Regions from separate parts of the Homo sapiens genome. Here region 2 is linked to region 1. The links come from fine-mapping of genetic effects on gene expression. A gene starts in region 1. The other region holds a variant in brackets. All regions are shown on one strand. Distances are from middle to middle.

The links. PIP is the estimated chance that this variant, and not a neighbour inherited with it, causes the effect. A credible set is the group of variants that fine-mapping cannot tell apart.
Region 2: its variant is the best candidate, but not a certain one, in a credible set for the expression of UBE2Q1 in whole blood (INTERVAL, PIP 0.81).

What each region holds. Positions count from the first base shown.
Region 1 is chr1:154,556,444-154,560,657 of GRCh38, forward strand. UBE2Q1 (ubiquitin conjugating enzyme E2 Q1) reads right to left here and starts at 2,219. Exons shown (of 13, transcript NM_017582.7): 1 at 1,784-2,219. The coding sequence starts at 2,110. RefSeq lists silencers at 1,814-1,913, 2,234-2,313, 2,404-2,493, 2,614-2,703 and enhancers at 2,073-2,654, 2,655-3,235.
Region 2 is chr1:154,694,019-154,698,280 of GRCh38, forward strand. It overlaps KCNN3 (potassium calcium-activated channel subfamily N member 3), which reads right to left. Exons shown (of 8, transcript NM_002249.6): 8 at 3,437-4,262. Among named protein-coding and RNA genes, the nearest start is that of ADAR, 88 kb to the left of the region's middle. The variant T/C (reference allele first, on the strand shown) is at 1,723.

The sequences.
Region 1 (4,214 bases):
CTAGACTGTATCTCCAGAACCCAAGAGTAAAAGGGTACTGGCAAGAATCTACCCACACCACTTCCAGAAGAGCCCCTCAAAGACCAATTCTCCCCACCTCTCCCTTGGGAACCTGCCACCTTCTCAGTCCAGGCGTGGGCTGTAGGGCTCCACATGGCAGGCTGGGAGAAAGAAGCCTACGCTACTGACATTCCCAGCATTCCTGAGCCACGGTGCCAAATGCAGCCTGACCAGACTCCCTCTCTGCCCAAACCAAGGGGGCTAGTTTAGGCCAAGTCTCCTTTATAGCCATGGGGAGTCTGGCTGAGGACCCCCTAAATTTAACTTCCTGCCAGGGACAAACGCAGTAAATGGCCTCTGGCAACAGAAAGAGCAGCTGGATAGGGGCAAACCTACCCTTAAGGAATTAGAAGCTTAATTCAGGAACAAAATTAACTCGAGGTTCCCACACAAGCCAGGGAAACCTTATCCACCTCTACTGGGTATCTTAGCATTGCCATGACTCTAATCCTCAATGCTGGAGGAAAAATAATTATCAAAGATGCCCAAGTCTTCACTTAACTAAGCCACTCCTAGTCCTTCAATTTTAACTTTCTAGCAGGAAAAAAGAAAGGAAATGAAAAGAGAAATGGGACATATGAGTTTTGGTGGGGCACCAATCAATCCAAACTGAGGCTTTACCTCACCAAATCTTAACTTGGTTTGATTGAGAAAACGGACAGAAAACACCAGTAAGTTGAATTCAGGCCCCCAAGTAGCAGAGAATTCACAACTCTGCCTTTCCCCAGGCTACTCCGATTAGGTCTGCCTGCCTGGATAAAGTACTGTCTGCTAGCATTTCAGCTACTGCTCCGGTAGAGAGAATACCATCACAGCAGGTAACATCAACCAATATAAGTGCTATAGCATGCAGTACCAGACATTCCCAAATTAGCAGAAGCCAATTCTCTGTTCAAGGGATGTCTGAGGGTAGACCAGGCAGGAGACATGTAAGGTGTATGCCTAGGATGGAATGACGCTCACAGGGGAGAAATGCAACTGTTACTGCTTAGAATAAATGGGGGTAGCCCTCGCACATCACATCACTATCATTACCAGGAAAAGCAACAACCCAGGGCAAATGGACATATCCATAGGGAACAGGCAGGGGAGTGGCAGAACTGCTACCAGCTGAGGCAAAAAGAGGAGAGTTAGAGGTTACACCAGAAAAAGAATCCAAAGGAGAGAAGGAAGAGGAGTCAATGAATTGCAAACTATCACTTGGTGAAGTTGAGAGAGCAAGAGGGTCTGCATGAGGGATGCCTAGGCGGGGATCCCACAGGTGGCAACCTCCTAAGTCAGAGGTACTACTGAGAAGGGGGCATCGCTGAAATGTGCAGTGAGTTTCAGGCCAGGTCTTTGCAGTTAGGGTCAGTGCCGAGGCCTAAAACCTTGAAATAAGAGTAAGGGGAAGAAAGACGCATTCCTAGGTGGCAAGGTAAAGTTGTGGAGGAGTAGCCAAAAAGAGCCAAAATCATGAACCTTGGGATGTGGGTGGGTTCGTGGAAACGGGTAGTCTAGGCGCCATATGTCGGGGTGTCCCTTGCTATTGGGGTCAATGGTAGAGATTCTGGGTGCACTGCATAACCTCAAGCAGCAGAAACAAATGTAACCTGGAGAGAAAGAACTGAGCCCTGAGAGGGGCTTCGGCCTCCCAGGTCCTTCGAGAGCAAAAAGCTGGATGGAGTGATCCTGGGTCCCTGACAAGGGGCCCCCACAGAGGCGCACGCGAGGGGGTCCTCACCGTGATGTTGCAGTGGATGCGGACAGGATCCCCAGGCACCGACCCCCGTGGGGGGAGATGCGGTCCGGGCGCGGCCCCCGCCCCGGCCCCTCCGGCCCCAGCCAGCAGGAACTCGCAGCTCAGCTCGTCCAGGCAGGCGCTGGCAATGCGGAAGCGCTCGTGGCCGCGGTGGAAGATGGACTCGAGCAGCTTCAGCTCTCGCCTCAGGCAGGGCCCCGGCCCCGGGCCCCCCCCTGGGCCGCCCCCGGCCCCCGGCGCCGCCCCCTGGCCCCCCAGCTGCTGCCCCGGCCCCGGCTGCTGCTGCCCCTGCGGCTGCGGCTGCTGCATCCTCCGCTCCGCTCCGCTCCGGGGCCGGCGGGCCGGGAGCCTCCGGCCTGCGCTCCGGGCTCCGCCGCCGCCGCCGCCGCCGCCGCCGCCGCCGCGGTCCGCACTTCCTGATCCCCCCTTCGCCAAGATGGCGCCGCCGCCACCTCCGGGACAGGCCCCCCCCTCCGCTCGCTGGCCCCCCCAGCCGCCGGAAGCCGCGCGCCCCTCCTCCTCCTCCTCCTCCTAGGCGGCCCCGCCTCCGTCCCCCTCACGTGACTTCCCTGCTCTGGCCTCCTCCACGTGATCTCTCCGTCTTTCCCGCCCCCCTGTTCTCGCCTGCCACCCTCCACATGTGACCCGGGGCCTGGGGCTTGCCTCTGTGGGCGCCTCAGTGCGAGTTTGCGTATGTCGTGCGTGCTTGCGCGCGACGCCCCTTCGCCTGCGCTCCCCTCTCACGTGACTCGGTGCCGCGTGCTCCCAGGGGCTACCCGCGCAGGACGCTGTTTCCTGCCCCGGGCGCCGCTTCCCCCGCCCCCGAGCCGTGGCGAGCGTGCCCGGCACTCCATGGACAGAGAAGAAAGAAGTGCTGTCTTCCCCGTGCAGTCTTTATCCTGCTCCCACATGCTGGTCTTCGGCGCAGGATCCTGGAGCCTCTGCTCCCCGTGGGGGTGGGCATGCTGTGTCTTCACACTCGGGTGGGTGGTCGGGGTAGGAGCCGGGAACCGGAATGGAAGAGGCGTGGATTCTCGTCCCAGCCCTGGCTCTCATGGCGTTTTGTGACCTTGGGTTAACCACTTTCCCGCCGAGTCTCAGTTTCCTCATCTGTACAATGGCTCTCATGAGAATGATGCCTGTTTTTCCTATTCCCAGGGAGGGATTCGATGCGAGGACACCATAAAATGAGGAATGATAATAGATCACTGCTGTGTTATGTACAAGTGTTAGTTAATATCAGGCCTTTCGCGCTTTTCAGACCCCATGGGTCTGGACGAGGTTGGGGGAAGGACAGCATGGGCTTCCTCCACAGAGTCATGGAAGGAGTGCTGACTCGGGTGGTCCCCATTCCCTTTCCTAGGCCTAAATGGCTAACACCTTGTCGCAGTGGTCTTGGCAGCTGCCAGGAGTAGGTAGTGCCTCCGGACCCTCGCTAGGTGGCACTATCACAAAGGACAAAGCTGGTTGAAGCTACAGAAATCCCGAGCTGGCGTTCGTTTTGCCAAGGGCAAGTGTTATTAGCCTGTGGTAAGGCCTAGTCAATTCTGCTGGGCCAACTCAGCCCTTAAACCACTGGTCAGATTGCCCCGTTTCTCTCCCACTTGTACTAAAATGAGCTAGCCTTTGCTGGAAGACTATTCAATTGCCTCTGCAGAGGCCTCCTTTGGTCAAGTTGGGGTATGGGTATTTAAAGACGATTATAGTCTGTTCCTGGTCTTCGTGGGGCCATTTATCTGGTTTAGGTAGCCTGAACAGTTTGCTACATGTTGACTTTGTGTCTGTGTGTGCAAGCTGATAGCATAAAAGGCTGTGGTGGGAATTCCTGTTAATTATTTCCTGAGCGAAGGTGTTTTGCAAATATATATATATATATATATATATATATATTTATTTATTTATTTATTTATTTATTTATTTTAAGACAGGGTCTTGCTCTCTCGCCCTGGAGTGCAGGGGCACAATCTCAGCTCACTGCAGCCTCGGGAGACCTCAAGCTATCCTCCCACCTCAGCCTCCCAAGTAGCTGGGATTACAGGCGCATGCTACCACAGCTGGGTAATTTTCGTATTTTTTTTGTAGAAAGGGGTCTTGGTATGTTGCCCAGACTGGTCTCAAACTCCTGGGCTCAAGTGATCTGCCCATCTCGGCCTCCCAAGGTGCTGGGATTGCAGGTGTGAGCCACTGTGCCCAGGTGCAAATATTTGTAAATCTCCCAACAACATTGCAAGGTAAGTATTTTTACCCCTGTTTACAACTGGGGAAAAGGAGTGACTCTGTAAGGATATACAGTCTGTAAACAGAGTTCCTAGGCCTGTCTCCAAAGTCCATGCCCTTGTACCCTACTCTGCCTTTTTTAGTGTGTTGAACCCCAGCTCTGCCAACTACTAATGATGTGACTGTGGGGAAATTA
Region 2 (4,262 bases), 140 kb after region 1:
TAGAGCCTCGCTCTGTTGCCCAGGCTAGAGTGCAGTGGTGCGACCTTAGCTCACTGCATCCTTCGCCTCCTGAGTTCAAGCAATTCTTTTGCTTTGGCCTCCTGACTAGCTGGGATTACAGGCATGCACCACCATGCCCGGCTAATTTTTGTAGTTTTAGTAGAGATGGGGTTTCACCATGTTAGCTAGGCTGAAGGTTCCAGGTTTCTAATCAGAGCTTGGTCTTTCTGGTGACCAGCTCCAATTTTGGAGCTATCCAGGAGCCCAGCAAGAGTCACCTCATTATAACAAGAAGTGGGTCCTATCATCCAGGAAATCCCATGGGATTTAGGAGCTCTGTGCCAGGAACAAGGGACAAAGACCCAAAATATATTTCTTATTATGCCACATAATGTCCCCATTTCTCTCCTCTCCCCTCTGCCTTTGGTGGTCTTCATCCTCATGTTCCACATGGTGGCCCTCTGTCAACTCCTCCCTCTCCCCTCATCAAACAAAAGGGTTGCAGCAGCTCCTGATCAAGCAGCACCTCACCCTCCTGGGGTAGAGGGTCTTTTCTGGTTGCTCTGGCTCAAGCCCTGGGCTCTGGGGTTCACTTGCTCCCATTGGCCTGATTTGGGCCCTGTGCCCATCCGTTGGCTAGGGTGATGAGGTACTCTGATTGTCTTAAGCCTGCCATGGCCCACCAGAGGTCTGGAAGTTGTATTAACCCCACCCAAGTGCATAGTTGGGATGGGAGAAGGGCAAATTCACTAAAGAAAACTCTGCATGCTGTTGGCAGAGAATTGGGGAATGGGTGCTCTAGAGATAGTGAATAAATGTCCTCTACAGTTTTCTCACATCTTATTTCCAAGTACAGAACTGAGAATGTCAGTTCCTCTTATTGATGATCTGACCATACTCGTCGAGCATTTTCTCAATTAAACTGCCACCAAACAGGGTCCTATGTTCCCAAATTTGTGAATCAAGTAAACATTGCATTGTTATTATTGAAAAAAGTCTGTAGGAAATCCTAAGGGTAAATTTGTTAAGATTCCCAAATTCTGAAGTTTAGGATGAGTTATGTATCTACCTTCTCATTCCAAGAGGTGGGAGGTGAGGAGGGTGTTCTAAGAAAGGGCAATTGAATCACAGCTTACAGGCACTTACAGAAGACCTGACATTTCCCTTGATGAGTGACTGGGATGTGGGTGCCCCATTACTGTATGCATTCTTTCTTGAGAAGTACTTGATTGCTTTTAAGTGATACCCCAGTGTTTGAAAGTAGGAAGCAGAAGAGGTTTGGAAAAGCGTTTTACCTAGGTGAAGAGGAAATCGCCCTCAGGTATTGCATGCGTGTTTTCCACCTTTGGTTTTCCGGGGGGGAGGAATGCATTTTAAGAGAGGCTATTAAGTGTGACTTGTTCTCAGAAAAAATAAAGTGTAAATTTCAAATTCATGCTACAAGCAGATTAAGTTAATTTTGGCTAATCTTCATGTATTATTTGCAGTGGTGACGGCAATGAAGATTAATAACCTTGACCATCATTAGCATAATCCACTGTAATGCTGGATATAAAATCACATCATTTTAATAATCGAATTTAATGTTTCCTGACCAGTGGGGGTTCTTGTAGCTTTGCAAGTATTAGCTGTAAATTCTTTAAACTAAAGGCAGATAACTTTGAAAATGATCAATGCCTCTGGAATATAAAATGCACTATGAATTATTTTAACCAGTCGCAA[T/C]ATGCATATCTTTGTTTTCTTTGAGATATTGCTAATGCGGTGTATGCATTAGCGGTGTATGCGTGTGTTGAGAAGCAGGGGCTTTTCTTCTTAGCAAACATTTGCAAAATGGATAACCAACTACTTTATGAGGATGAATCAAGAAAGAGCATGGAGAGGCTATGGGCAGGCCTCAATTTACCACATCAGCCCAGAAGGCATTCTCAATGTGGCATGAAAAGGTTCCAGTTTACTTTCTGCCCATAATTCTCCATTTGATTCCAGGCAAATCACTTCTCTTGAATCTCTGTCTCCTATGTGTAAGGCAAGGGCCATGACCTAGATGAATGTCTCTAACAGGCATGGCCTGCCTTCTCATCTGCATCCGCATACAGTGCCAGCACCTTGTTTTTGACAGCCATACAGATGAGCCTTTTCCTGGATGCCAAGTGACATTTCTTTTTCCCTCAGATTGCCCTATTCCCGTTGGTCTGCAGGGGGTGTTCTTACTCAGAGTCTCCTGAATTCTGAATTAGCAGAATTGTCCATTTTGGAAAACTGGGCCCACCTTTGAGTTCTAATGTCTTGTTTTTCCAGCTTCCACAGTTATGCATGATGTAATAATGGATCAAATTTTCTTTATAATAGGAGACAACATTTTATCTAGTGGTTAGATATAGTTTGGAAAAGATCAATGCGTATAACATAGCAGGTTACCCAATTTTTGTGCGTTAGGTTTAGTGAGTTACCTGCTAGCAAGGACAATGTGTTATGTTTAATTTTAACTTTTTTCGTCTAGTGAAAAATGTCAGAATAGCCCTCCCTCAATCTTCACCCAGAGCTAAGGCCAAAGAAAGACATTACACCCAGACAGACTGTGTGCCAGGAGAAAGCAGCAGCCAGCCAGAGAAATACCATGTGAGGGAAGAGTAACCTGGCAGCATTGTTTGCCAATACACGTAGAGCCAGCATGCAGATCAGCACAGTCTCATGGGGCCAGGACTGAAGAGACATGAGGGCAAGATGAAAAGGAATCAAGCTTCGAGTAAATCACCATCTTTATAAAAACCTTGCCCCCTCCTACTCTCTTCTCTTCCCGTCTCCTCACCAACTAGGGGGAGGGGAGAGATCCTGAGGAGGGCTGTGCCAGACTAGGCACCGGTGGCCTCACTTCAGCAAGCTCTGGATCAGTGGTGCTCAACTTGGGGCACCCCTTAGAACGACCTGTGGTGCCTCAGGGACATGCCCAGGTGTCACCCATACTCTGCTTCTGAGTCTCCATGGGTTGAGAAGCCTGGCTTGGGGTTTTCAAAAGCTTCAGAGATGAGTCTACTGAGACCCTCTGCTCAGCTAAATGGAAGGAGTGCTGTGTGGAACTGCCCGATACTTTACTTGAACATAGTTGCAAGTTTGCCGTATCACACATCAGTGTGTCTAGATATTCTCGTTGATGAACAGCCATTCACCTTAGGAGCGGCTCTCACTCTCTCTGGGTGGTTAAAACTGGGTTTGGTATTAAGGCCTTCCATGTGTCTCCATGTTGGGGGGGCCAATCTCCTGAGTCAACACTACCATGAAAACCACGGCAGTTCTGGCCTTGCTTAAAGAAGCAACCTTTTCCAGGGGACGCTGTTTCCGATCTAAATTAAGATTTCCTCTTTTAAAAAATCTTGCTTTCACAACTATACATGTAGGGAAAGAAGAAGATAAAATTAAAGGAAATCAGTCACTTGCATTTTTGGTTTTTTGGTTTTAGTCAGTTCTCTTCTTGTTTTTATTTAATGCCATAATATTATATTAGCATATGCCGTAACATTTAAAAATGCCCATTCTCTCCAGCTTCAGTTCAAGCAGGAGTGGGGAAGGCCATAGACTAAGCCCACCTTCAAGGTCACACTTCCATATTTTGCACAGAGAAGAAAATGCAGTCTCCCATCCAGATCCTCAGACCCACACACCAGCCCACCACTCTCATTCCAGATGCCCTAAGCCTGGGTCTGGACACATGTGGTCAATACACATCCTGGATCTTACAAATCCAATGGTGGCCAGCAGTAGAACTGAAGCCTGTAAGTTTTCATTCACTCCTAAAGTGTGCTGAGAAATCCTAGCCTGTTTTTTCCATTTAATTCCTGTAGATGAGTCATTTGCTCCTCAGTTTTCTATGGCCCAATTTTCCCATTGGAATAATGGGAATAATATGTCATCCACCTTACAGGGTGATGACTAATATATTGGCATTTGAGATCCTTAGATGAAAGGTATTACTGTGTATAAGTATAAAGTACTATTATTTAGTAATCACTGAGTTGGTAAATGTATTCATTCATATGGAGTTTTTGGAGGAAGAGCTTTAAGGAATGACAGCAGTAGAAATGCAGCTAGATATATTTTTGAAAACATTTTTTAGGTCTACCAACTTAGAAAAAGTCCCAGATATTACATACTCCTTCTAAAGCACCTAATTTGCATTTTTATTATTATTATTATTTACCTAGAACTACAGAAAAATTTATGGGAAGGAAAGTAAGGGTACAGGGTTTTCAACTTGGGGAAATTCA